3 separate regions of the Homo sapiens genome follow, and all the other regions are linked to region 1. Evidence: fine-mapped expression QTL. A gene starts in region 1. Each other region holds a variant in brackets. All regions are shown on one strand. Distances are between the middles of the regions. Region 1 holds the start of LRRC75A (leucine rich repeat containing 75A). Region 2 overlaps LRRC75A (leucine rich repeat containing 75A). Region 3 holds the start of SNHG29 (small nucleolar RNA host gene 29).

Evidence for each region. PIP is the estimated chance that this variant, and not a neighbour inherited with it, causes the effect.
Region 2: its variant is fine-mapped to the expression of LRRC75A in whole blood (INTERVAL, PIP 0.96).
Region 3: its variant is fine-mapped to the expression of LRRC75A in transverse colon (CEDAR, PIP 0.95).

The regions. Positions count from the first base shown.
Region 1 is chr17:16,487,294-16,497,743 of GRCh38, forward strand. LRRC75A (leucine rich repeat containing 75A) reads right to left here and starts at 4,900. Exons shown (of 4, transcript NM_001113567.3): 1 at 4,452-4,900. The coding sequence starts at 4,697. It overlaps LOC124903936 (a long non-coding RNA gene), which reads left to right. Exons shown (of 3, transcript XR_007065641.1): 2 at 77-153. RefSeq lists enhancers at 1-537, 10,338-10,450 and silencers at 4,503-4,562, 4,673-4,722, 4,813-5,152.
Region 2 is chr17:16,448,909-16,459,358 of GRCh38, forward strand. All of the region lies in intron 2 of LRRC75A (leucine rich repeat containing 75A), which reads right to left. All of the region lies in intron 3 of SNHG29 (small nucleolar RNA host gene 29), which reads left to right. Among named protein-coding and RNA genes, the nearest start is that of SNORD65, 13 kb to the left of the region's middle. RefSeq lists enhancers at 1-252, 253-752, 7,473-7,974, 7,975-8,474. The variant C/T (reference allele first, on the strand shown) is at 5,757.
Region 3 is chr17:16,438,071-16,445,338 of GRCh38, forward strand. LRRC75A (leucine rich repeat containing 75A) reads right to left here. Exons shown (of 4, transcript NM_001113567.3): 4 at 3,507-6,061. The coding sequence ends at 5,518. SNHG29 (small nucleolar RNA host gene 29) reads left to right here and starts at 917. Exons shown (of 4, transcript NR_045025.1): 1 at 917-990; 2 at 2,115-2,183; 3 at 3,004-3,060. It overlaps SNORD65 (small nucleolar RNA, C/D box 65), which reads left to right and starts at 3,156; the gene lies at 3,156-3,228. It overlaps SNORD49B (small nucleolar RNA, C/D box 49B), which reads left to right and starts at 1,439; the gene lies at 1,439-1,486. It also overlaps SNORD49A. RefSeq lists enhancers at 1-320, 321-1,220, 336-525, 5,725-6,624, 5,738-5,817 and 2 more. The variant G/T (reference allele first, on the strand shown) is at 4,369.

The DNA of each region.
Region 1 (10,450 bases):
AAGAAGTGTTCTTAGGTGGAGGTGGAAGGAAAAAGGTGACCTTCTGAGGTCATTATGCTCATCTTTCTGCTTCTAGGTAGTAACGACCTGTCCAGTCTCCACATCTCCAGGGAGTCTCCAGGTGTCTGTCCATTGCTCAGCTCCACTTGAGGGGTGAGTTAAACTCTTAGGTCCTGGCTCTGTGGCCCAGGCTGGAGTGCAGAGGCTTGATCTCGGCTCACTGCAACCTCTGCTTCCCAAGCTCAAGCCATCCTCCTACCTCAGTCTCCCAAGTAGCTGGGACTACAGGTGCACACTACCACACTTGGCTAGTTTTTGTATTTGCATTTGTAGAGACAGCCATGTTGCTCAGGCTGGTCTTGAACTGGTGAGCTCAAGTCATCTGCCTGCCTCAGCCTCCTAAAGTACTGGGATTACAGGTGTGAGCATTTCGCCTGGCCTCAGTGGTTCTTGTTGGCATTAGCTGATGTGGTTCCTGTTCCCAGGTGCAGAGTGAAGCCAGCCTCACCACCCCAGACAGCAGCAGGAACCAGGATTCCAGGCCCTAGCCATACCACTGGGAGGCCCAAACAAGTTAACATAGGAACAGCCCTGCTTAAGAGGTGTGCGCCACACTTCGAGTAAACCAACCCCATCAGCCTCTTCTCATGGGAAAGCTGGGGTGCTGGTGAACACGAAGACAGGGGCTACCTCAGCTGGGTGTATCCCAGGGAAACAGACGCCTTTTTCTGCTGCTCCATGACGCAGGCCGACAGCTCAGTCTAAAATTTTGAGGACTCAGGGAAACTGCTGGGGTGAAGAGATGACAGCTCACCCTCAAGGTGGCCTGGCACTTGCCCTCTCTCAATGGCGGAAGGTTATTTCTTCTCCAGGGCTCCTTAAAGACAGCAGGCCTGAGCCCAAGGGGAAGGACATCTGGGGAAGGGGAAAGCCTGGAAGGATGGCGGCCAGGAAAGGGCAGAGGAATGGCCTCTCCCATCCAAAGCTGGCTTGTTTTATCTCCACGAGCATTCGCTCCAGATGCTTCTAAATGTGCAGTGAGTTTTTGATCCAGACTGAACCCTGGCCAGGTAGATGGAATCCAAAAAATTCTTGGGCCATGCCTGAGAAAGGATGCCACAACCCTGCCCCTACTGGGGCCAGACCCAAAGTGAGTAAGGCAGATTCTCCTGTTTCACAGTCACCAAGAGAATGTGTCTTGAATGGCAGCACCAACACCATTTCATTCACTTTGTAGCATTTGCTGTGCTCAGTACCCCAGATCCCTCTTTGGGAAACAAAGAAACACAACTCAGAGAGGTTATCTGCTGGGCCCAAGGTCACAGCTGACTGAGGACCGGAAGGCGAGCTGCCTACTTGATCCTTGGCCCTGGACTCTTCTCAGATTACACTTATCTTAAAGGGAAGGGGATTACTTTCTGTTCCTTCAAGGCAGCTGCCTGGCATCCTGCCTGCACCCCTGGCCACAGCTCAGGGTCATTTGTGCTGAATGAGGCCTCCTGATACCTCTCCAGCAAGTGACAAGCTGGAGAGACGCCCTCCAAATCTTAGATGCTGAAGAGGGGCATTCAGAAGAAGTGGCACCAGCAGCCACAATCCTTCAGCCCACCGTGAACTGCCACACATGCACCCGGGTCAGGTCCCTGTTTCCAGATCCCCAGCCTGGAGCAAGTCACAGCAGGGAGAAGGGTGGTATTGGACTGGAGCAGAGATTCTGAGCTTGGAGTCTGTAGCTGGGTTTCAGGGGCTTTGTGAACCCTCCGAAATTGCCTGTGAGATTGCGTGAGTCAGTGCATTTGCCTGGGAAGATTGTGTGTAGCTTTTTCAGAGCCTCAAAAAGATCAAGGACTCAAAGAGGCTAAGAAGCACAGGAACAAAGGCTCCCGAGTCCCCACCAGCCATATGGCTCTGGGCATACACAAATCCAGCAGCCAAACCCAAGTTATCAAATGCAGGAGAACATGCTGTGTGAATGGAGGTGAGGGCTACTGTCCTCGCTGCTGCCCCTCCCTGGTTCTGTGCCTGCTCATTGACTCCCACCCCAGAGGCCTGCATGACATTCCTGCAGAACAGGGTGCCCCACGCTTTGCAGACCCCTGTCTTTACTGGCTGTCTTGCTGAGGAAGAGGTTCTTGCTGGTCTGACCCCTGTGAGGCTTGTGTGTTCTCAAGGCTCTCACTAGCTGCTCATTCCCTTTCTGAACATCACCACCACCAGACTAGAGAAGGAAACTGGAATGGAAAGGAAAATGCAATTTTGGAGAAAGAGCCACTTCAGTGCACAGCACAAATCCAGCTGGACATTCCTCCAAATGGCCTCAGGGTCCTAGAAAGCCACCTCTCTGTCATAGGCAAGTGAACACTCCTGTGCTCCACTCCCACACTGCTCAAGGCCCATGACCACTTTCGGGAGGGGTCCTGCTCCATCCGTTCCAGGCCACACAGGGCAGCTCCAGGCCCACGGCCCTTGCATCCCCAGCCAGGGGTTAAGGGAGCCCAACAGGAGCCCAGAAGCCCAGAGCCTGAGGACCTGCTGCTTTCACAGAAAAGGGGGAAGTCTGATAAGCCCCCTCCCACCCCCCCATCAGCCCTCCCAGTCCTGCAGCTGAGGCGGGTACCAGGACACCAATAAGACCCATGTGCAGATGTCTGAGGAAATGCTTCTTGTTTCAAGGATCCCACAGTGGGGCTGCAGGGGCTTATCTACTCTCCCTCAAGGCAGGGAGAAGCTCAGTGTCCCCAGGATGTGGAATCACACTCAGCCCTACAGGGACTGGGGAGCCCAAAGTATCTGCCCACTTTGGGTCCAGTCTCCTCCCGTGGGCCTCCAAGCGGCCCTCCATCATGCAAGCTTCGCTCTGGTCTTGCACCCTCCAAGAAGTGCTTGCCAGCTCCCTCTGTTCTTCTGTATCCCCCAAAGCACCCATTGCAGGGTGGGGGAAACAGCATGTGATCAGGAAAACCTTACTGTATGGTGTGTAAATAGGATACCATGGTCTGGAAAACCCAATATTCTGTTTAAAAGTGAAAGAGTTACTATAAAGGCCATATGTCAGCTTCCAATTTTCAAAAGACAAAGAAATACACACTGCTAAAGTTCAGTGGTGCATAATGTCATCTTTCTTTGATGACTGAACTCAGAGAAGGCACATGGGGATCCAGCAGCGTCTCGGGCATCATTCTGGAAGTTGTTGGGGAAAACAGAGGCAGAAGCAGAAGTCCCACATCTTCCCAAGTCCCCTCGTCTCTGCTTGCCTCTCCCTGTGCAGTGCACAGCTTGGGGACACATACTTTAGGGTAAGAGCGCACCAGATACAAAGGTGGGGAAGAGTGCTGCAGAACCCAAGAGGGATGTGGGTCTGATTAGATTTTGGAAGCTCCTCCCAAGAAGGTGCTCCTACAGCCTCTTTCAGCAGCGACTGGAAAACCCCAGAAAGGTCACCTGAGATTTTCCCTCTGCCATCCACGGTAGACTCCACCTCTAATGGGGTCAGTCTAGCAAGAATATGGGGCCTGGATTGTCTACCCACCAAAGCCAGGCCAAGACAACCTGCTTGGTGATGCAGGAGAGCAGCTTTGCACTCCCCTGCCTGTCTTATACTCAACAAAATCCATGGCATGGGCCATGCTCCTCTCCCCACCAAAGAAACTGACAAAGGAAAACAAGCCACAGAGAGGTGAGTGATAGCATTAGCCTCAGGGCAGCCCCAAAGCAGAGGGAACTGGCCAATTCCGCAACATCTGTCCCTAGCCAGTGGGACAGGCACAGGCTAAGGACAGAGTCCTGGCAGTCTCCTGAAGTTGCTGCTGGCCAGGTGGTCACACAGGGCACCAAATCCAGCTCCCCTGTCTCTACCGCTTTCCGCAGGGGCTCATGGTTGAGGATCTGCTGAAGTTAGTCAGGGGAGAGGAAACAGTCTCCTCCTTGAACTACAATCCAGGATGCCTCCCAGGCGAGTGAAGGACCTAGGGACTGGAATCTCATTGGCCCCAGGGCTGTGCCCCTGGACTCGCTCTCGGGAAGCCAAGCCAGGTCCAACTGATAACCGCATTCCTTGAGGACCCTCGGCCGGGAGTGACTGCCAGTGGGCAGACAGGAAGAAAAGAGCCCTGGCCCAGATCAGGCAGGCATCCCTGCTTCCCCGCCCACCGACTGTCCCCGGAGACCAGCCTCCTTCTCTGCCTGCGGAGGAGAGCAGTGGGGACATTATGCCAACAGGTCCCCTTCGGCGGGCCTCACCCGGCCAGCCTTCCTCCGCCCTGCCCTGAGGCCCCACATTCAGCGGAAGCGCCGAGGCACCTGCTGCCAGACAGGGCTCCATCCCCGCGGAAGGGGCCCCTGGGCGGTGCCCCTCGGTGCCCCCGGCTTCCTCGGTTAGGGATGGGGCGCCCCCCCCGGCCCAGCACGCCCCCTGGCCCGGCGCGCCCCCCGCGCCCCCTCCCCGCGCTCACCTGGCGCAGGTGCTGCAGCAGCGTCCCCGCCTCCTCCCGCCGGCCCTGGCGCACCATCCGCAGCAGCTCCTGGACCATGCCGACTCGCCGGTGGTAGGGGGGCATCCCCGCGCCCGCGCGCCCCGCCTTGTCCCCGGCGCGCAGCAGCAGCGACGCCCAGAAGTCCGGCCGTTCGCGTCGGGGGCCCGGCGCGGCGCCGGGGCTGGCTCTCTCCGCCAGGCTGCCCTTGGTCTGCCGGGTGCCCATGCCGCCGCCGCCCGCCGGGACTCTCCGCTCTGGGCCGCGAGGCCGCGTCCCCGCCAACCGCCCGCCCCTCGGCCGCCCGTGCGCGCTCGCCTCCCGGGCTGCAACTTTGGGGGAACTGTTGCGCGCGGGCGTCGCGGGGGCGGGCGGGCGGGCGGCTGTCGGCGCTCCCCGCGCTCCTCCCTCTTGGCTACCCGGGCGCGCTCCCCGGGCGCTCGCCGCCGGCCCGCCCGCCGGCCCCGCCCCGGCCCGGCTCGGCCCGCCCCGCCCCCCGCCTCCGCGCCGGAGCTCCGCGGCGTCGCGCGCCTCCCTCTTCTCGGGCTCCCGCTCCTTCCCGCCCCGCGGCTCCGGGCTGGGGACCACCACCAGGCGCCCCCTGCCTGCGTCCTCTCGGCAGTCGCGCCTCCTGCGGGCGGCAGTGCTGCGCTTCCCGGGGCCGTGGCGCGGGGGCGAGGGGAACAGGCAGGCCCCATGGGCCGTCGCTCTCGGTCCCCACCGGGCTCCCCGACGCTTCCACCACCGCGCGCCCGGTGCGTCGGGCGAGATGGGGAAAGTTTGGAGCATGGGGGTGTGTGTGTTGGGGGGCTCTCTTAGGCCCAGAGTCGGGTTTCTCAAGGTGGGTTCCGCTGAGCCTCAGCGCCCAAATCGTCGGAGGCGCTGGTTAAAAACGCAGGCTCTAAGGCCTCCACCGAGACCTACTGAATGATAATCTCCTCGGTGGGGCCTGGGATCCGCCTTTTTAGCCAGCATGTTGGGTGATTCCCATGCACGCTCCTTTGAGACCTGGCCTGCTTGCAGGGCGCTGTAGTGGTGTGGTTGGTGCGTAAACCTGGAAACTGTGCGAGCTTATGGGTTGTGTGCGTGCCCTTCTATGGAGAGGGCCTGTTGCTTCCATCATGCTCTCAAAGCATCTGGACCGGAGAGGTGTGAACTCCTGTGTTCTCTTGTTCTCACTCTCACAGCCCTGGAGAAGGGTCCCTGGGGTAGTCCTGGTACAACAAAGCAAACGCACGTCTGCGAGTAGGCCCAGCGGTACACCCTGCTGGCCCACCTTCCTCCCCGTGCCTCTGCCAGGCCCAGTCTGTAAGGGACCAGAGCCCTGGGATCTCATGGTGTTGCCAGGGCTTGCCAGAGTGAAGGCGAAGGCAGGTGGGGGAGCTTCTCTGTTGCAGACCACAGGCCGCCCTGGTCCCAGCGCAGGGCAGAAGCAATTGTGCAAGCTCGCCTCTGACCCCAGCTCTGGGTGTTGCTTGAGGGTGTAAGGGCACGTGGGCTGTAGGGGCAGGAGGCTGGATCCCAAATCACAGGGAGCTGAGCCCCACTACTTAGTGAGCACTGAGTATCAGGCGAGTCTTCAGCTTCTTGAGTCCTGATTCTTCCTGTCAGGCTAGGATAATAACACTGCCAAGAATTGGGAGAGTAAACTCGGTGGACACTGCTAAAGGAAAAAATTATTTAATGACATGAGTTAAAGCATCGTAAGGAAGACTTTATTCAGGACCATTACCATAGGTGTAGGGACCTCTGCTATGAGATTTTGCAGTTGCAGGGAGAGAGAGATTGAGCTCAACTCCAATTACAGCATGGGCAAGTGGGAATTCGTTGCTAAGGAGCAGGGTGGGGGTCAGCGGATAGAAACTTAATAAGGGAAACATCAGGGCTGAGGGGGATTCTGGCTAAACAGGTTGTATGGAGCACCCTTGACATAAGTAACTCCATCTTAGAAAAAGGGTCCATTTTACATTTGAAAAAGCCTCATGCCAACAGGAACCAGATGTTCGCCTAATCAATAAAGACTACACCCCACCAGATAAAGACATAAACAGGCACACTCTTTGCTATCAGTCCTCACCAGAGGATTCTGTAGCCATAAAAAGAGCAGGACTTCAGCAACTGGAGATGACCGTCTGGATAGACCCCATCTTGCCCACACTCTGCCCACATCAAAGACTCTTCCTTGCAAGACACTGAGGACTGTTTGGATCAGGCCAGGAGACTCCCCTTGTCCAAGTCACTCTCCTTGGACTATATTGTTAACCGCTCCTTCCCTATCCCCTTTTCTCTTGATGTTAAATGTACTTTGATGTGGAATGTGTAATCTATAACATTTATATATTGATTAAGTATACTACCATGTATGGTTGGCAGTATTGACTGACTTGTGGAGTGACTTGAGCCTGTATGCCCACAGCTCTTATTACCAAGTGAATGGGGAAAACTAAGGAGAATTTGCCTCCTTGAGAACCCCATGTGGCTTGTGGCTTTTATGACTGAAATAGCATCAATAAAAGCCTGACGTTGTAGAAAGACACACATGTGCATGAACCTGATTATTTCTGACTTTGTGGCACTCACAACACCAACCTAACAGAATTCTTGCTTTAGACAGGCCAGGTGACCAGAGATCACCTGGGGGAGGGTGGGGGATGATAAACCTAATCAGATATTGAAGATGATCAGATATACAAGATGGAGGGTTCTTGCTAAACTGTCTTAACAGGGTCTTTGCTAAAACTGGATTTTACATGGAAGTGCAAAGAGGGTCTAGGAGAAGGTTTGGGAGCCTGACTAAAGTTTGGCCAAGCAAAGAATCTTTGTCAATATATAAACTTCAAGCAGAGTAGAGATGTTCTGCAAATGAGTTCCTCTTCCTGCTCTGTGATCACAGGGTTTTCCATAGGTGTCTTCTCCGTTATCCCTGAGTACCTTGAGTATGAGTCCTGGCATCTCTCCTGCAGGCATTCTCTTCCCTTTGGCCACCCCACTCCCAAATGTCCATCTCTGCCAGCAGAGAACACTCAGTCTTCCTACAAGCTGGCTTTGCAGGGCTTGGACAGCACTTTCCAAACTTACCTGAACCCTTTGCATAGGAGCACACACCTGCTGGCATCTCCAGAGAACCCAGCTTGAAAAATACTTATGTGTCTCTCATCTCTGGTCTGCAGGACCACCAGACAAAGTGGCCACCAAGGACACCTATTGACCAGGCCCCTCCCTACAGACAGTGAGCTCTACCCACCTGGAGACAGACCACACAACCTAGATAGCCTGTTGGCCTGCTTGAGGGTGTGTGGTTGGGGCAAATGCCATTTCAATGGGAGAGGGGCCAGACCAGCCCCTCACTTGGGATCTGAATGTTAGCCCTCTCCTCTTTTTCAGAGACCTGATTCTATCCTCCTCCCCTTGCTCTTGATTTTTTTACCCTGACTTTTCCTGTTTTCTGGCTTGTTCTCCTCAAGATATGCTCTACTCACCTCTCTTCCATCTATTGAAAAATTTCATTTGCATCTGCCTGCTTCAGTCACCAGTGCCCCAACTTTATCCTTTCTTTTCAGCTAAGATTTTTAGTTTCCCTCCCTCCCTCCCTCCCTTCCCTCCCTCCTTCCTTCCTTCCTCCCTTCTTTCCTTTTCTCTCTCTGTCTTCCTCCCTCCCTTCTTTTTTTTTGAGACAGGGTCTCACCCTGTAGCCCAGGCTGAAGTGCAGTGGCACCATCACGGTTCACTGCAAACTTGATCTCCTGGGCTCAAGCTAGCTTCCCACTTCAGCCTCCCAAGTAGCCAGGATCACAGGTGCACGCCACCATGCCTAGCTAATTTTTGTAATTTTTTTTTGTAGAGACGGTTTTACCATGTTGCCCAGGCTGGTCTTGAACTCCTGGCCTCAAGCAATCCTCAGGCCTTGGCCCCCCAAAGTGCTGGAATTACAGGTATCAGTCACCACGCCCAGCCTATTGTCATTCTTTCTTTACCTCCATTCGTTCCTCACCCACTTCAGCTTGGCTTCTGGCCACACCATGTCACTAAAATGCCTCTTGCCTTTAGCCTTTAGCAACAGCTAAAGAAGTGACCTAGTTGCTACACTCAGTGGCCACATTCAGTCTTCATCTTACTTGACTTTTAAGCAGCATCTGATCCTGTTGCCTACTCTTTTGATTGAAACTCTACTCCCTTGGCTTGCAAGGAACTACTCTCCTCTAGGTTTCTTTCTTGAGTTCTCCTGGGAGCTCCTTTTCTTACCCTCATTCTTTACTTGTTGCCTTTATGCAGGGTACTACCCCGTATCTCTTCCTAGGCAATGCTATTTATTTATTCATTTATTTGAGACAGAGTCTCAAATAAACTTATTTGAGACAGGGTCACCCAGGCTGGAGTGCAGTGGTGCAATCATAGCTCACTGCAGCCTTGAACTCCTGGGCTCAAGGACACTCCTGTTTCAGCCACCCGCGTTTCTGGCACTACAGGCACATTACCAACATGCTCTGCTGGGCAATATTATTTGTAATCATGGCTTTACTTGCCATGTACACGCTGATGACTCTTTCCAACTTATAAGCTAATAAATTAACCTGTCATTGATTCATGGATGCTAAAAGAAGACATGACACTCTGTGGTCAGAAACATAGGACTTTGTTACTCAGAGCACAGCAAGAAGCATGTGCATCAGCATATTTGCCTCCAAGTCTCACAGGGGCAATATGGGGGGCCCAGATGGATGTTCCACAGGCAGCTGGTTAGCGTCATAGCTGAGGAACACCGAGCCTGGAGCTGCTTATGCAGGGAGGAGTAAGCAAGCCTGCTCTTCCTCCTCCAGGGAGATGGTACCTCATCCCTCAAGGCGGCTCGCTGTAAACACAGCACTGAGAAGTGGCCCAGGTTAAAAATGGTCAGGGTCTTGCAATCTTGGCATACACAGCAAGATGTGTGAGAGTGCAAGGGACCCACGGAGGATCATCTCTTCCAATAGTGAGCACTTCATGCTCGACAAATGAGCGCATCCTCTTCCAGGCCTCCCTCCCAATCTACCCACTCCTGTCTCCGCTTTTAGTAACAGCAGGCCAGAAACCCGGGAGTCATTGTGCACTCTTTGTTTAACCTGCATCTTGTTAACCAAGGATAGTTAATGATGCCAAGGATGGGAGCTCTCATTTGCTGCGCATTTCCTGTGTGCTCGGTCTTGGGGTGTGTTCTTTGCATATATTAGGCAATTCATCCTTTCCACAGCTGCGAGGTAGGCTTTGTTATTGTCCTGATTTCCCAGGTGAGGAAATGGAAGCTTAGAGAGGTTAAATGACTTGGCCAAGGTCACACAGGTAGTAAAGGGCAGTGTTGAGATTCACGCTTAGGTCTGCTAGCATTGTTAAGGTCCTACATTTTTTTTTTAGACAAGGTCTCACTCCCGTCACTGAGGCTGGAATGCAGTGACGTGATCATGGCTCACTGCAGCCTTGACCTCCCAGGCTCAGGTGATCTTCCGACCTCAGCCTCCGTAACTGCTGGGACTATAGGCATGCATCACCATGACTGGCTAATTTTTGTATTTTTTGTATAGACGGGGTTCCACTATGTTGCCCAGGCTGGTCTCGAGCTCCTAAGCTCACGAGGTTCACCAGCCTCAGCCTCCCAAAGTGTTGGAATTGTAGGCATAAGCCACTGTCCCTGGCCTTGATCCTCCTTTTTTTTTTTTTGAGATGGAATCTTGCTCTGTCACCCAGGCTGGAGTGCAGTGGTGCCATTTCGGCTCACTGCAACCTCCATCTCCCGAGATCAAGCGATTCTCCTGCCTCAGCCTCCCTAGTAGCTGGGACTACAGGCACATGCTACCACGCCCAGCTAATTTTTGTATTTTTAAGTAAAGACAGGGTTTCACCATGTTGGCCAGGACAGTCTCGATCTCTTGACCTCGTAATCCGCCCACCTCGGCTGCCCAAAGTGCTGGGCTTACAGGCGTGAGCCACCATGCCCTGCCGGTCCTACG
Region 2 (10,450 bases), 38 kb before region 1:
ATGGCAGACACTGGGTTAAATGGTGCAGCTGAAAGATGCTACAGACTCCAACTACATCCCTAGGAAAGTCAATCCAACAGTCCCCGGAGCCAAACTCGTGCTGGACAGGGTGAGGGCATGAGTCCCTCCAGGGAGTGAGGACCAAAAGCGTGCTCCTGCCAGTGGGCCAGTGCTGAGGCTTGGATGCAAGCGCTGAGGCTTGGATGCAAGCGCTGGACTCAGATGCAAACCCACATGTGGCCAACGACTCGGTGTGGGGAGGTCCGGCACGTTAACCACGCACAGTGCTCAGCATGGTGCCTGGAGTGGGTGCTCAACAGGCTGCTTTGTCATTACGATTCCCACACCCCTCTGCTAGTGGACAAGCAGTGTATTGAGTAGTGAAGAGCAAAGACCTGGGGCCAAACCGTGGGGATTCAAGTCCTGGCTTTGTCCCGTTCTGTGTGGCCTTGGACAATTGCTTGACTTCTCTGTGCTCCAAACCACATCTGTGAAAGGATTACAGTACAGACCTCACAAGAGTTTCTGTGAGGATTAAATGAGTCACTACTAGCGCAGTGCTTTGAATAGAGCCCAACCCACAGCAAGCTCTCCAGGCACACTCTAAGTGAATACCGTGATAGCGGCACCAGCACAGAGAATTCTGGCAGGGCAAGGAGGGAAGATGACTTCTGCCCAGGCTCAGATTTGAGCTCAGCTTTATTTTAATTTAATTTAATTTATTTTTTGAGACAGTCTTGCTCTGTCACCCAGGCTGGAGTGCAATGGCACGATCTCGGCTCACTGCAACCTCCGCCACCTGGGTTCGAGTGATTCTCCTGCCTCAGCCTCCCGAGTAGTTGGGATTACAGGCACCCGCCATCACACCTGGCTAGTTTTTGTATTTTTAGTAGAGATGGGGTTTCACCATGTTGGTCAGGCTGGTCTTGAACTCCTGACCTCAAGTGATCCACCCGCCTTGGCCTCCCAAAGTGCTGGGATTACAGGTGTGAGCCACCGCGCCCAGGCTGAGCTCAGCTTTTAAGAGCAGATGGGTTAGTGATTTCAGATGGAGAAAGAAAACGTGAGGCATCCTTGAGTGAGGAGGAAACAGTCTGTGGCAGGGCTTGGTGATGTGGCGGCTGTGGGGTGTGTTACTGACATGAGGGCAGGTGAAGGCCTGGGGCCTGATCACATCTGGTCCCTCCATGGTTCAAGCCACTGTCAGCCCTGCACACCAGACATCACGCAAGAAGGTTATGGAATTCCCACAGCACCCCAAGGCAGTAGATACTTTCGTTATTCCCATTATGCAGTGGGGGAGCCTGAGGCCCAGAGGGCTGGGGATGGGCTTGGGGCTGATGGGAAGGCAAGAGAAGGAGACTCTGAGGAAGGGGGACAAGAGAGAGAGGAGTTGGGAAGATGGCAGTTGAATGTCCAAAGGAGAGAGGCATCTGTGGAGGGACCCAGGAAGCAAAGGAGGGCCCGAGACTGAACAGAACGGATTTGGAGGAGGCCCCTGGGCTCCAGTTCACAGCCCATCCCCACCCCTGCCCCCAGCTTCCTGGTGCCTGGCTGTCTGATGAATAAGCTTGTATCACCTGCCACTTGCACCTGTATCACACCTGTGTGTTACACCTGTCACTCCTGTGTGTCACTCTTGTGTGTTGCAGATGTGGGGGCAGGTGAGCATCTGCCTTTACGGCTTCATTCCCCACCCCTGGAGCTGACATCTTTTGGTTCCTAGACTTAGCTTCTTGCTGAACCTGGCCACATGACTGTGTGGAGGGAAGCAAGGCGGGTGAAGCAGGAGGAGCTGGTCATGGGGGCTGCAGGGGAGTCCCTCAAGGGGGATGTTCCTCAGACTGGGAGATGGAGAGAGGGGTGGACAGGAGGTGGAGAGGATGACTCAGGGCCAGGCTATTGGAAGGGGCTGAGGGGACAGAGGCCACACAGCTGACTGATATGCTGGATGGAGAAGGTGTGGGCAGGGAGGGTGAGGAGGGTCTAGGCTTTGGGCTTGGGACATGAGTAGAAGGCAAGGGGCTCAAGACAAGAAGTGGGTGAGAAGGCAGGAGGGGGGTGACCTGCTCATGTGGGGCCATGGTAAGTTTGAGGAGCTCACAATACCTCCAGCTGTGGATGCCACTGGACTTATGGGGTTGGGGCTCAAGACAGGTCCAGGCTGGACACATTCATCAGTAAGATTAAACCCCTGGCCAGAGAATGAGCTAAGCAGGAGGGAGAGAGAACAGTGGACACACAGCAGTCAGAGAAGACTCCATCAGAGCAGCAGGAGTAGTGGAGTCTGGACACCAAGAAGAGTGACTAATGGGGTTAGACCCCCACCCAGAGGCCACTGGGTCTCCAACAAGGAGGCCATGGCCAGCACAAGTTCAGGGAGTGGGGCCATGGTGGGAGCCGACCTTAGAGCTCAAAGGGAGAATAGGGGCCAGGCACGGTGGCTCACGCCTGTTAATCCCAGCACGTTGGGAGGCCAAGGTGGATGGATCACCTGAGGTCAGGAGTTCGAGATCAGCCTGGCCAACATGGCAAAACCCTGTCTCTACTAAGAATACAAAAATTAGCTGGGCGTGACGGCGGGCGCCTGTGATCCCAGCTGCTCCGGAGTGCTGAGGCAGGAGAATTGTTTGAACCCAGGAGGCGGAGGTTACAGTGAGCCGAGATCGCACCACTGCACTCCAGCCTGGGTGACAGAGTGAGACTCCATCTCAAAAAAAAAAATAATAATAATAATAAATAAATAAAACAGAGAATAGGAGGTGACACTGGAGATGGCCCATCTAGAGCTGTGCTTCTTTACCTTGGAATCTTTCATACCGGAATCTCAGGGGAGCTTTTTTTTCTTTTTTTTGAGACGGAGTATCGCTCTGTCGCCCAGGATGGAGTGTAGTGGCGCGATCTTGGCTCACTGCAAGCTCCGCCTCCCGGGTTCACGCCATTCTCCTGCCTCAGCCTCTCCAGTAGCTGGGACTACAGGCGCCCGCCAACATGCCCGGCTAATTTTTTTGCATTTTTAGTAGAGACGGGGGGTCTCACTGTGTTAGCGAGGATGGTCTCGATCTCCTGACCTTGTGATCCGCCCGCCTCGGCCTCCCATTACAGGCGTTAGCCACCGCGCCCGGCCTGGAATCTCAGGGGAGCTTTAAAGTCCACTGATGGGCCAGGTGCTGTGGCTCACTCTTGTAATCCCAGCACTTTGGGAGGCTGAGGCAGGAGGATCACTTGACCCCAGGAGTTCAAGACTACCCTGGGCAATATAGTGAGACTTGCTCTCAAAAAAAAAAAAAAAAAAAAAAAAAGCCCATCATGGTGGCATGTGCCTGCAGTCCCAGCTACCCGGGAGGCTGAGGTAGGAGGCTCTTGAGCCCCGAAAGTGAAGGCTGCAGTGAGCCGTGATCACACCTCTGCACTCCAGACAGGGTGAGACCTAGTCTCAAAAAACCAAACCAAACCAAACAACAACAAAATAACACTGATGCCTGGGCCACCCCAATGATGGGTGGGTGGCTCAGGCACAGGGATTTTTTTTTTTTTCTTTTTGTTTGAGATGGAGTCTCACTCTGTTGCCCAGGCTGGAGTGCAGTGGCGCGGTCTTGGCTCACTGCAACCTCCATCTCCCAGGTTCAAACGATTCTCCTGCTTCAGCCTCCCAAGTAGCTGATTACAGACGCCTGCCACCACACCCCGCTAATTTTTTGTATCTTAATAGAGATGGGGTTTCACCATGTTGGCCAGCCTGGTCTCGAACTCCTGACCTCGTGATCTGCCCGCCTCAGCCTCCTAAAGTGCTGGGATTACAGGTGTGAGCCACCCTGCCTGGCCACACGGGGATTTTTAAAAGGTCCCCAGGTGATTCCCTAGTGCAGCTGAGGTGGAGAAGCACTGGTTCAAAGACCATGGGTGGGATCAGGTGGTCTGCCCAGCATCACTCCTGGAACCACCCCAGGACAGAATGTAGCCAGTCTCCAAAGCTTAGAACTGAGCCCCTCAGCTGCAGCTCCTCCTTCAATCACTTCCCAGGGTTTCCAAAATCTGGGGCCAAAATCCCTGTCCACCCTCTCAGCCTGGGCAGCTGAGCCTTAAAAGAAGAGAATAGAGGCCGGGCGCGGTAGTTCACGCCTGTAATCCCAGCACTTTGGGAGGCCGAGGCAGGCGGATCACAAGGTCAGGAGTTCGACACCAGCCTGTCCAATATGGTGAAACCCCATCTCTACTAAAAATACAAAAATTAGCCAGGCGTAGTCGTGGGTGCCTGTAGTCCCAGCTACTTGGGAGGCTGTGGCAGGAGAATCGCTTGAACCCGGGAGGTGGAGGTTGCAGTGAGCCGAGATCGCGCCACTGAACTCTGGCCTGGGCGCCAGAGTGGGACTGGTGTGGGACTCCTAAACACACACACACACGCACACACGCACACACGCACACGCACACACGCACACGCACACACACACACACGAGAACAGAGGACAAGGGGGCATCACTGCACTGCCATTGCCACAAGGGGGCAGCCACGCACAGGGCCAGGCTCGGGATGGAAGTGTATCTGCCACTACCAGGGAGAACTGAGGAGCCTGCGTCTCCTCACTGGCTAGACAGGAACAATAGATATGGACACCTCATAGAGTTGCCTTGAGAGCACAAGTGAGCTGATGTTCTCTCAGGAGTGAGAGTTCCCTTCTGCTTGTCTGAACTAAACTGACAACAGCTAACATGTATTGAGCAGCTGCGATGCATTGGGCATCTCCTCTGAGCACTGTTTGCATGAACATTTTGGGGCTCAGAACACAATTCCAAAGCATGGCGCCGGGGCCAGCAGAGAGCTTTGAACTAACGGAAATTGGAAGGCCTCAGAAGCAAAGTTTTTCTGCCCTTCTGCTGCCCTCCTGTCTCTGGCCCTTCTTCTCCCCCAGAGTGAGTCAGAGAAACCAGAATTCTTCTTCCCCAAGGCAGGTCACAGAGACCAGAACCCCTCTCCCTCAAAGCAAGCCATAAAACTAGGCAGGTCACTCTCTCCCTTCTGTCTTGAAGACCATTCCAGAGGGGTAGGAAGGAACACTGCAGAGAGAGGCCAAGAAGAATCTGAGCAGATAGCCTTCCTGGGTCCCCTCGGCCTATCACCATTAGATCACACCCTTTGTCCAATCGCATTTCTACAAGCTTGTGCACTCTTTACCAAGCCTGAGTATAAAAACAGATAGCTGGCTGAGTGTGGTGGCTCACGCCTGTAATCCCAGCACTTTGGGAGGCCGAGGTGGGTGGATCACCTGAGGTCAGGAGTTCGAGACTAGCCTGGCCAACACGGCGAAACTCCATCTCTACTAAAAATACAAAAAATTAGCTAGGCATGGTGGCGGGCACCTGTAGTCCCAGCTACTTGGTAGGCTGAGGCAGGAGAGTTGCTTGAACCCAGGAGGTGGAGGGTCCAGTGAGCCGAGATCACGTCATTGCACTCCAGCCTGGGCAACAGAGTGAGACTCTGTCAAAAAACAAACAAACAAACAGGCCAGGCGTGGTGGCTCATGCCTGTAATCCCAGCACTTTGGGAGGCAGAGGGGGGCGGATCACCTGAGGTTGGGAGTTTGAGACCAGCCTGACCAACATGGAGAAACCCCATCTCTACTGAAAATACAAAATTAGCCAGGCATGGTGGTGCATGTCTGTAATCCCAGCTGCTCGGAAGGCTGAGGCAGGAGAATCGCGTGAACCCAGGAGGCAGAGGTTGAGGTGGGCCGAGATCACGCCACTGCACTCCAGCC[C/T]GGGCAACAAGAGCAAAATTCCGTTTTAAAATAAATAAATAAATATAATTAAAATAAACAAATTCTAACAAACAAAAAACCAAAAAAACAAAAAAACCTCTTTCCCTGGGGTTTGGGGTCTTCATTTCTTTCTTTTTTTAAAGAGATGGGGGTCTCACTATATTGGCCTTGCTGGTATTGAATTCCTGGACTCATGTAATCCTCCTGTATCAGCCTCCCAGGTAGCTGGGGCTAAGGGTCCTCATTTCTTTTCTTTTCTTTTCTTTTCTTTTTTTTTTTTAGTGACGGAGTCTTGCTCTGTCCCCGCCCTCAGGCTGGAGTACAGTGGCACCATCTCAGCTCATTGCAACCTCCGTCTCCCAGGTTCAAGTGATTCTCCTGGCTTAGCCTCCCGAGTAGCTGGGATTACAGGCGCGTGCCACCACGCCCAGCTAATTTTTGTATTTTTAGTAGAGACAGGGTTTCACTATGTTGGCCAGGTTGGTCTTGAACTCCTGACCTCAGACGATCCGCCTGCCTCGGCCTCCCAAAGTGCTGGTATTACAGGTGTGAGCCACCGTGCCTCACCTGAGCGTCTTCATTTCTGAAAGCTCCCATGTTGCGTAAAATTTTGATTAAACACATTTGTTCTGCTTTTTTGTTACCCTGTGTCTGGTTATAGGAGTGTCAGCCATGACCCTTATAATGAGTGAGGGAAAAGTACCACACAGTTCTGCCCTACAATTTTTTTTTTTAGACGGAGTCTTGCTCTGTCGCCCGGCTGGAGTGCAGTGGCGCAATCTCAGCTCAATGCAACCTCCATCTCCCAGATTCAAGCGGTTCTCTTGCTTCAGCCTCCCGAGTAGCTGGGACTACAGGCACCCGCCATCCATGCCCGGCTAATTTTTTTTGTATTTCTATTAGAGACGGGGTTTCACCATGTTGGTCAGGCTGGTCTCAAATCCTGACCTCAAGTGGTCCACCTGCCTCGACCTCCCTAAGTGCCCTACAAACTATAGTCCCATACCTTACTACAACCCTATGAGACAGGTATTATTAATAACCCCGCTTTACAAATGAGGGAACTGAGGCAAAAAGAACTTAAATAGATGGGCAAGGCCTCCCAGCTTGTAAGACGGAGTCAGGATCTAAAGTCAGCCAGCTCTGAGGCTGATGCTCCTAACCGCTATCTGCTGCCCTCCTTGTGAGAAATCCTGTCTTTGGCTTAGGTCAGTTCAAAGTGTTTCTATCATTTACAACCAGAAAAGCCTTCAGTGAGACTGTCTCATTTTTTCCCAACTCTTCCACTTTTCAAAGAACCCCTCCAGGGCTCCCTCCTGCAGAGAACAGGACTAGGCAGCACTGGCCCAGAAGTGGAGCAGTAAGAAGGTGGGGAACGGGGGGAGGGAGAGGAGGAGAAGGAGGAAGAGGAAGAGGGAGAGGAGGAGGAGGAAGGGGAGGGGGAGGAGGAGGAGTAGCAGTAGTAGGAGGAGGAGGAAGAGGAGGGAGAGGAGGAGGAAGAGGAGGGGTAGGAGGAGGAAGAGGAGGAAGGAGGAGGAAGAGGAGGAGGAAGAGGAGGAAGAAGAGGAGAAAGGAGGAGAAGAAGGAAGAGGATCAGGAAGAGGAGGAGGAGGAAGAGGAGGAGGAAGAGAAGGAAGAGGAGGAGGAGGAAGAGGAGAAGAAGGAAGAGGAGGAGGAAGAGAAGGAAGAGGAGGAGGAAGAGAAGGAAGAGGAGGAGGAAGAGAAGAAGGAAAAGGAGGAAGAGGAGGAGGAGGAAGAGGAGCAGAAGAAGGAAGAGGAGGAGGAAGAGGAAGAAGAGGAGAAGGAGAAAGAAGAGGAGGAGGAAGAGGAAGAGGAGGAGGAAGCTGGACTTGACACTGAGACACACATACCCTAACTCCTCCAGTGGCTGGAACCCTGAGAAGTAACCTGGGAGCCATAGCTAGCCACATTCCCTACCATGCGGCAGGGGGAAGAGCAGTCTGTGCAGAGGGAACACAGAGGGAGGCAGGGTAGAGCAGCGAGGAGGGAAGGAGGGACCTCTGCACCGTGCTTATCTATAGTTCTAGCACCTTGGTCTAACTTGGCTGCCCGTGGGCACCACAAGACACCTCGATATCTGTAGAACACATTTTCTTCCTTGCTGGAGCCAGCCCGCCTGGGCTTCTGTTATGTGCAGCAGAATCCTAACCCGCCCAGAAGGCTCAATGGCTGTGTGCTGAATCAATGCTTTGCAGTCCTCCCCCGATCCCTGAAGATGGCAGGAGTGGGATGTGGCACAGTCAAGTGACTATGAGTGCAGGTCAGGGCAGCAGCCTCTCCAGACCTTCCCAGTGAGGCTGCCCAGGTCCTGGGGCAGAACGTGTTTGAGGGGCTTCTCATTAATCTGTCAGGAAAGATGACGTGCTGACCTGCAGGCTGACCTGGGAGGGGTACCAGCACCCGACACTGCTCTGGCTCTCAGCCATCAGGCAGTGATACCATCTGCCATCTTCACTCCCCAGGCACCTCTGTAACTGCTCCAGGACCCCGACAAGCACAGCCCTCCACTGCCCTCCATTCAAGGCTATCCCTCCCTCATCCATAAATTCATTCATACATTCATCAAATGTTGACTGTCCCCCTCATTACACTGGACACCATTCCAGATGCAGAGACTGTGTGCCGGCTTTTCTGTTTCCTCTTGCCCCACAGTCCACTCTGCCCTTCTCTGCTCAGAAGGCTGGGCTCTAGAGACTGCATCACTGGGCTCTCTTCCCCCTGGCTTCCACTTGGGTTCAGCTAATGGGAGCAATGGCAGCAAGACCAGAGGGCAGGAGGAGAGACGGATGGGGGAGTTTATTCTGATTCCCCCACTTCGGCATGTGCAGCCGCCGGCCTCCAAGACAGCCTTGCTGCTCTCGGCTCCTGGCATCTGTGCCCCTGTGTAATGTCCTTCCACATTGTAGCAGGGCTGGTCTAAGTGAGCAACAGAATCATTAGAACCAATAGAATGGTGGAAATGATGGTTTGTGACTTCTGAGACTGGGTCTTAAAAGGTATTGTGGGGGTTGGGCTCACACCTGCAATCCTAGTGCTTTGGGAGGCCAAGGGAGGGGGATTGCTTGAGGCCAGGAGTTTGAGACCAGCCTTGGCAACATAGTGAGTGCCCCGTCTCTACAAGAAAAAAAAAAACAAAAAATTAGCTAGGCATGGTGGTGCCTGCCTGCAGTCCCAGCTACTTGGGAAGGTGAGGTGGGAGGATCACTTGAGCCTAGTAGTTCCAGGCTGCAGAAAGTTATGATCACACCTCTGCACTCCAGCCTGGGCATCAGAGTGGGACCCTGTCTCAAAACAAACAAACAAACAAATACAAACAACAACAACAACAAAAAAGCAAGGCCAGGCATAGTGGCTCACACCTGTAATCCCAGCACTTTGGAAGGCCAAGGTGGGTGGATCACCTGAGGTCAGGAGTTTGAGACCAGGCTGGCCAACATGGTGAAACCCCGTCTCTACTAAAAATACAAAACATTAGCCAGTTGTGGTGGCAGGTGCCTGTAATCCCAAGCTACTTGGGAGGCTGAGGCAGGAGAACCGCTTAAACCCGGGAGGCAGAGGTTGCAGCGAGTCGAGATTGCGCCATTGCACTCCAGCCTAGGTGATACAGCGAGACTCTGTCAAAAGAAAGAAAGAAAGAAAAGAAAGGAAAGAAAGAAAGGCATTATGGCTTCTATATTATCACCTGTTGTGGGATAAGCCAGCTGCCATGATGTGAGGACACTCAAGCAGTCCCATGGAGAGGCTACAGGGCGAGTGTGCCGCCTTGGAAGTAGACCTGCCAACTTCTTTTTTTTTTTGAGACGGAGTTTCGCTCTTGTTGCCCAGGCTGGAGTGCAATGGCGCGATCTCAGCTCACGGCAACCTCCGCCTGCCGGGTTCCAGTGATTCTCCTGCCTCAGCCTCCCGAGTAGCTGGGATTATAGGCATGCGCCACCACGCCCGGCTAATTTTGTATTTTTAGTAGAGATGGGGTTTCTCCATGTTGGTCAGGCTGGTCTCGAACTTCCAACCTCAGATGATCCACCTGCCTCGGCCTCCCAAAGTGCTCGGTGGCCTCCCAAAGGTGTGAGCCACCGAGACTGGCAGACCTGCCAACTTCTGTTAAGCCTTCTGACACCTGCAGCCCTGACCAATGTCTTGAGAGACCCAAAGCTAAACTACCTACTTAAGCGGCCCCTGCAAACCTGACCTACAGAGACTATAACAATAAATGTCTGTTGTTTTAAGCCACTAAGTTTTGGGGTAGTTTGCTATATGGCAATGGATAATGCAGCGTGGCTCTGGACCAGGTGTTCTCACCCTGCCTCTGGCAATACAGCTTGTCCTCCTGTGAAACAACTTCCTACTACTGCTGTCTTTGGATGTCTCAATGTCCCCTGTTGACTTCCTTTATCCTGTCCTCAACCCTTTACTAAACTCTCTTCAAACTTCACAATGGAATATGTTGCCTGCTTCCTGCCTGGTGCAGGTTGGAATTATGAACAAGACAGACACCCTTCCCTTCAGAGTTTATATTCTAGTGGGGAAAACAGACAATAAATTAGCCAACAAATAAATAAGCAAGGTAATTTCAGAGACCAGTAAGTAAAACAGAGAAACGAATGGAAAAATAAATGGGGCTCGAGACAGGCTGATCAGGAGCCTACACTAGGCAGGCTTGTCAACGAAGGCCT
Region 3 (7,268 bases), 51 kb before region 1:
GGTTGCGGTGAGCGGAGATCGCGCCATTGCAGTCCAGCCTGGGCAACAGGAGCGAAATTCCGTCTCAAAAAAACACAAAAACGAGCAACAACAACAACAACAACAAAAACCCTACACTTATTTCTGAGGCCAGCTCAAAAGGTCTTATGATTGTCTTCCCAGTTTTTTGCAGTCAAAATGAATTTCTTTCCCTTGGTATAACGTGTGTGTGCAAAACGTGGTTGCATGGATTCTTTTTCAAGGAGAGAGCTGAGCATGTTCATAGGCTGAAAGGAAAGCCACAGTAGAGAGAGTTTTCCATGGAAGGTGAGGCAGGGGCATAGGTGGAGGAGGCCCCAAGGAATGAGGAGAGGAAAGGAGGTGGGCAGAGCTTTACCCCAGAGGCGAGCAGAGGATGGACGTGGATCTAGATAAGACGTCAGCTCGTTCCCTAAAGGTCGTGCTAAAGGAGTAATGAGGGTGACCAGTGCGCAGGGGTTTGAGAAGCCCCGTGGATGTGGTGAAATAGCTGTGGGGAGAGTATTTGGCAACGCTCAATAGATTCAGGAGGAGCTACTAGGATGAATGGCTGCCTTGTGCCACAGCTCTACAGGCTTTCACGTGTGTCATCTCACGTGATCTTCTGGGGCGCTGGTGTCTCCGTTTACTAGAGGACCAATCGGAAGCTTAAAGAGAATGAGTAATTGGCCCAAGACCACCCAGCTAAGGAGTGGCGGAGGTGGGGCCCAAACGCGCGATCCAGCCCTCGCGCAGGCGCCCTGGAACTCCCCGCGCGTGTTGTGACCCAGAATTCCCGGGGCTGTGGAAGAGACCATAGACTCAACAGGAGGGGGAGTCCTGGGTAGCGCGCCGGTCTAAATCGTTACTTGGCGGAAAGTTCCCATGAGTCTTTGCCAGCGTCCCCCTCCTTTTGTGAGGATTGGGATATTCCGACTCCTTAAGGGCCTGGCGCACATAAGGTGTGACCTTTTCATTCCCGTTGTTATGGAGGTAGGCTCTCTAGGAATCTGGGAGTAGTAGCTGGGGGGCAAGAGCAAATAAAGAGCTCGAGCTTCTGTGGTCTCTGGGGAGATGTTCCCGGGAAGCCTGTCTAGAGGGCGGAGGGCAGCTGTTGAGATGGCGTGGCTCCCCGGCTCCTGCGCCCGCGTGGCTTTCGCGGCGGGCGCTGCGGCCCGGTATTGGACAGCCTGGCAGGGCAGCGCGGGGCCGAATCCGGCTGCCGTGGCTGAGGCTCATGGATCACTCTTTTGTGGTAGGGCCACATCTGCCAGAGCCTGGAGTCTGCGAAGGCCGGGACCCGGTTCCCCGGCCCACAGTGGGGGTGTGCAAACCCGAGAGAACTGGGTAAGTTGGGGTCGGCTTGCAGTTTGGGGTACCCCGAGGGCGGTGTACGTCGGTAAGATTGTAACAGTATTACTGGAAGACTTATTCGACTGTCCTGATGATACTTGTAATAGGAAGTGCCGTCAGAAGCGATAACTGACGACGTCTAATGTCTATCTGACCGCAGTCGCTGAAACCTCTACAACTTAGTTGACCGTAACTGCCAGAGCCCTGCCCTGAATTCCTGTCCTTACTCCCTCTTTAAGATTGCGTACCCACTGCAGAGTGCTGAAGACGGGGTAGCCACGAGGTGAGAGGCTCTCTGGTGTAGGGTTTAACATGGAACGTAGTTTTGTCACTTGAATGCACGGAAATTGGCGTTTTGACAGTTTTCTACGTTTAGGTGTTTTATACACTTTAGGGTAACGTTATCATGTCATTGCATAGGGTGGAACTTAAATAGAAACTGGAGATGGCTGCTTCAGCCACAGTCCTAACCTAGAACTGCATTTAAAGCAAACTGATAATGCAGAAACAAACTCCTTCGTTAAGAAATGTCTCCAGTAGCAGGGTTAGCTTAAGTTTCAGGTAGGGTCTAGATCTGCGGTTGGAACAGTACTGGAGGGTTGTGAGGTGCTTGACTGCTCTGATGAAATCACTAATAGGAAGTGCCGTCAGAAGCGATAACTGACGAAGACTACTCCTGTCTGATTGCAGTCAAGTCTTCACCACTTGCTGGTTCCCAGGAGTAAACTTGTTTGAACGGTGACCTAATTGCTATATTCACCTAGGTTGCAAATTCGTGAAGAATCAGCATCATGTTTGGCAGCTGAGTATTGGAGCCAGGAGCCTGCCATGAGGTAAGCCTTGCTCTATGGGGAGGCTAGTGGCTGACCACGCCTAGCTGTCAGGTCGAATATTGGCAATTGGATTTGGTTAACCTAATACCTTGTAACAGTGTAGCCTATCCCAGAGATACTGATTTTAGTTTCCGGTGGCAGTGGAGCCAGGGTGGATTACCTAGAAAGAGGGGCTACTCTATTTACCTCTTGGCTGTTTAGTCTCGGGCAAATTACCTGTCTGCTGAGATGTAGTTTTCCTCAGATGTGAAAAGGAAAAGTAATCTTAGCTTTGTGAAGTTTAAATTGATATGACTGAAATGGAGATTACAACTCCCCTGAGGCTGGGCACAGTGGCCTGTAATCCCAGCACTTTGGGAGGCTAAGGTGGGTGGATCACCTGAGGTCAGGAGTTCAAGACCAGCCTGGCTGGCCGACATGGTGAAACCCCATCTCTACCAAAAATACAAAAATTAGCCGGGTGTGGTGGCGTGTACTTGTAATCCCAGCTACTTTGGGGGCTGAGCCAGGAGAATCGCTTGAACCCGGGAGGCGGAGGTTGTAGTGAGTCGAAATCGTGCCACTGCACTCCAGCCTGGGCAACAGCGAGACTCCATCTCAAAAAAAAAAAAAAAATTACAACCTACTGAGAAGCTAATTAAGATTTGTAGTCCTCAATAATTTACAAAAACTTAGAAAAATTACCTCTAATTAGGTCTTAAGGGGCTTTTGTTAGGATGGACTTAAATTTGTAAAGTCATTAATTGACTGTCATCAGAAATGCCTGTCCTGCTCTGCATCTGCAGTCTCTAAGGTGTATGCGCCTTCTCCATTCCCCCAGGTTTTGAGAACAGAGTGCTGTTTTAGAGCTGGCAGCAGCATCTCAGCCCAAGAGAAGGTAAGCCTTGAGCTGGCCAATGATCCCTTCAACCCCATAGTGGAATGAATAAACAGCTGATCTTGTTAAAACTCGCTTCAAAAAAAAAAGATATCAAATGATGAAATCACCCAAAATAGCTGGAATTACCGGCAGATTGTGTAGTGGTGAACCTATGGTTTTCTGAAGATATCTCTTACCCTGTGATTGACTGTCAGTTGGTGCAGAAAGTGAGATTGAAATGTAGTTTCTTTGCAGGTTATATTCCCAGAGGATGTCAGTCCCAAGGACCAGTAGCTGCCATCAGTTTGGATTCTGAAAACTAACTGGCATCAACACTGGGTGTAGAAACATGCTTGCCTTATGTATCAGAGGACATGCTCAGCAGATCCAAGAGATATATTTGGCAACTTTTTCTAGAAAAGGCACATTGGGTATCATTCATTACATTCTTGAGTTTTTTTGGGTTTTTTTTTTTTTTTTTGAGACAGTCTTGCTGTATTGCCCAGGCTGGAGTGTGGTGGCACAATCACAGCTCATTGCATCCTCAATCACCCAGGCCTAAGCAATCCTCCCACCTTGTAGCTGGGACTACAGCTCACAGCACACCTGGCTAAAATTTTTTTTTTGTTGAGACGGATTCTCTATGTTGCCCAGGCTGGTCTCAGGCTCCTGGGCTCAGATGGTCCTCCTGCCTCAGCTTCCAAAGGCACAGGCCAAGTTGTAGCTTTGTCCCTTGCCATCATGCCCAACAAGAGGTTCTATACCTTTTAATGAATTGACTTTCATAAATTGGTTATGTTGGTGGGCAAAGTTCTTTAAGCTGGAAATTGTAAATTCCTCCTGAAATGTTTTTTCATGCAGTTACCATGAACTAATACTACAATAAAGGATGGTCTTGGGTGTCAATTCTTGAAAATGTGTATTTGAAGAAAAAGTAAATTTCGCCTACTGTTGTCAGATATTAGCAGTCCAGATATTCGCTCTAGCTTGTAAACTTCCCTGTGGTCAGCCTAAGCTCTTAACCCCCTATTCTACAGCTTTAGACTGAAGGCAAAAGCTCAAAGCATTTAAGGCCTCCTCAATTTCGGCCCCTGCTGCTCTGTGCTCTGTTCCTTGGTGTAGCTTTGTTCCAGCTCCTGCAGCATTGCACCATTCCTAACCACAACCTTAACAGCATGTAGGGCCCCATACTCTAGGCCCCATCTTGCTGTCTTCCTGTGTTGGAATCTTGCCTACCAAGGCCTGTCAAGAGGGTCCTCCCCCATACTGTTTGCCCACAAGGTTCAAGAGTGATTGGCTCCCAGTCTTCCTGGACTGAACTACTTG[G/T]ATCTAGGGGTTGCCTGTTATTTAGAAGAGATCCCTTAACTGGTAGGGCCCTTTCAGTAGGACAGTATTTGGGTAAGGGGAGGGTATAAGATGAGAACCTTTGCTAAGTTAGGTTCCTTTGGGAGCCTCCAGTTTGTTTCTCCCTCTCCCCAGCCATCTTGTTGGATCTGCCAAGGGATTGGACTCCTTCATTGTCCTAGGTTTTTAAGGTTTTAAAGCCCACCTTCTGCAGTCGGTTTTCTGGAATGTGTTGGTGGATTACTTAAGAGTTATGGGGAAAGAGTTCTTACGGCCTGTCTAGGTCAGTGAAGTCATACTGGCAAGTGACAAGAAGGAAGCCAGGTTTGTCACTTACCCTGCATGCTAAGGACATCAGAGCCCACATAGAAGTCTGGTAGTTTTTCAGCCAGCAGTGGGTAGGGAAGGTGGATAGGGGATTTCTGAACAGGACTTTATGCCTGTATGCATGGGCACCATGTCTGTCCTGAGCACTACCACATGGCATCGTAGGCTGCTCTGTCAAAGGATATAGCGATAGCTGGTCCTATGGGCAGATGCCTAGAATCAAGGTGGGCCTCAGAAATAGGGCTGGGTCTCCATAAGGAGGTAGGCCACGTTCAGTCCACCCCTAGCATAGATGGAACTGGGGTCTCGGGCAACCAGGAGTTACAGGAATTTTGCTAAAGATTCCCACCTTCCTTGAGTGGGGACACATTCCTCTGGTTGGAGCTTGTTCCCCTAAATGAAAAATGTAATGCAGTACATGTAGGGGCCCTACTGTATTCTTTTTCTGGGGGAAAGCTCTTGGTGTTCACAATGGCTCAGGCTTACAGTACCTCCAGCCATGTGCCCATTTCCACAAGTCTTTGGGGAAGGCCATGAGCTGAGCTGAGAGGGTTCTCTGGGGCCTGGGATGACTTAAGAACCAAATGGCAGATAATGGGATAGGGGGCAGATGCAGAGGACCAACGGGAAGTTTTAACACAAATCCCCTTCCCCAGATGATATGGTTTGCCTTTCTGTAGGTGGGTGGCCCAGGCCAATTTTTGGCAATATCCTTAACCCACCTGATAGGAGAAGCGCCCTCCCCTGCCTGCCTTGCCCATTCTACCCAACAAGGACTCCCTGGTGAGGCCCTTCACTTCCATGTCACGTCTGAGCTGCAGCTACAGTCTCCTTGCCCTCATGGTGGTCTTCGGCAGGTGCCACAGGGCCCCCTCCAGGGTCCTCCTGGCCTACTGTCCCTTCCCGGACCTCCTCCCCACTGCCTGGGCCCTCACCCAGCTCCAGGATGGTGGGTAGGTGGCCCTGCTTTGGGGAGCGCTTGCGCAGGCTGAGCAGGAAGGGCTGGGGCAAGGAGAAGATGTCCACGTTGTTGCCCAGGTCAATCCACGTGACATTGGGGAACTTGCTGGGATCCTTAAGGATGTCAGTGAGGTCGCGCAGCACGGCCCGGGTCAACCGGTTGCCATTGAGTGCCAGTGTGGTGAGGCGGGGCAGGGTGCTGAGTGCTGGCAGCAGCTGCAGGACCATGTCGTCCGTGAGGCCTGTGAAGCCCAGCTCCACGCTGTCTACCTGCTCCCCACAGCGCTGTAGGTAGCTGGTCACCCGCTCCAGGTCTCGGGAGGTCAGTGGGATTCCCGACAGGTCCACTGTGTTGTCTGGGGGGCTTCCGGCCAGGACAGCCTTGAGGCTGAAGGGAAAAAGGACAAACAAGGCTCAGGCACATAGGGCAGGCCTTTCCCCCAGAAGCTGCAGTGCCAGCCTCTGCTCGGCTCTCCGACGCTAGGGACTGCTTTTACGAAACACTTGGATGTCGGATGCCACAAGTGCAGAGGTGGGAGCAACCAGGGACCTCAGTCCCCTGACACTGCCGCACGTCTCAGCTGTCAGGGCCCAGCTGGCCGTAGCCTGAGGTATGTGGCTGCCCCTATTTACCAGAAAAATTGAGTTAAGAGTACCATTGGGCTGATATATGGAAGAAGTTCATAAGTGCAAAATGGTGCCTTGTATAGTAGGCGAGTGAGGAATAAACATTTGCTGCTGTATTCATCACCTGGACTCAGCTTCCCACTTCTACCACCCTGGGGTGGCAGCTCAGCCCCCATGAATGGCACAAAGGATCTCTGAGTCCCCTCTTTCAAGACCATCTTCCCCACCAGAGAAGGATTCCCTATGGGGAGCCTGTAAGACAGCAGGCAGGGCAGGGCTCAGGGGCTCTGAGCCTGGTGGCAGCTGCTGACTCCTGGAGGCTGAGTGCCTTGCTCCTTGCTTCTGCTTGTTCTTGGGACAGAGCCCAGGCAGTTCAAGCTGATGGCAAGTGTGCCCTTCCCTGCACACCCCCCACCCCACCCCCGCCATCTGTTTGCTGGCTCCAAGGCCCAGGTGCAGTGGTGAGATGTTCATTTTCCACATTTTTTTTTTTTTTTGGAGACAGTCTCGCTCTGTCACCCAGGCTGGAGTACAATGGCACGATCTTGGTTCACTGCACCCTCTGCCTCCCGGGCTCAAGTGATTCTCCTGCCTCAGCTTCCTGAGTAGCTGGGATTACAGGCGTCTGCCACCACGCCTGGCTAATTTTTGTATTTTTAGTAGAGACGGGGTTTCACCATGTTGGCCAGACTGGTCTGGAACTCCTGACCTCAGGTAATCCACCCATCTCGGCCTCCCAAAGCATTGGGATTACAGGCATGAGCCAACACGCCTGGCCATTTTCTGCATTTTTTTTTTTTTTTTTTTTTTTTTTTGAGACAGTCTTGTTCTGTCACCCAGGCTGGAGTGCAGTGGCGCCATTTCTGCTCACTGCAATCTCCACCTCCTGGGTTCAAGCGATTCTCCTGCCTCAGCCTCCCGAGTAGCTGGGACTACAGGTGTGTGCCCCCACGCCTGGCTAATTTTTT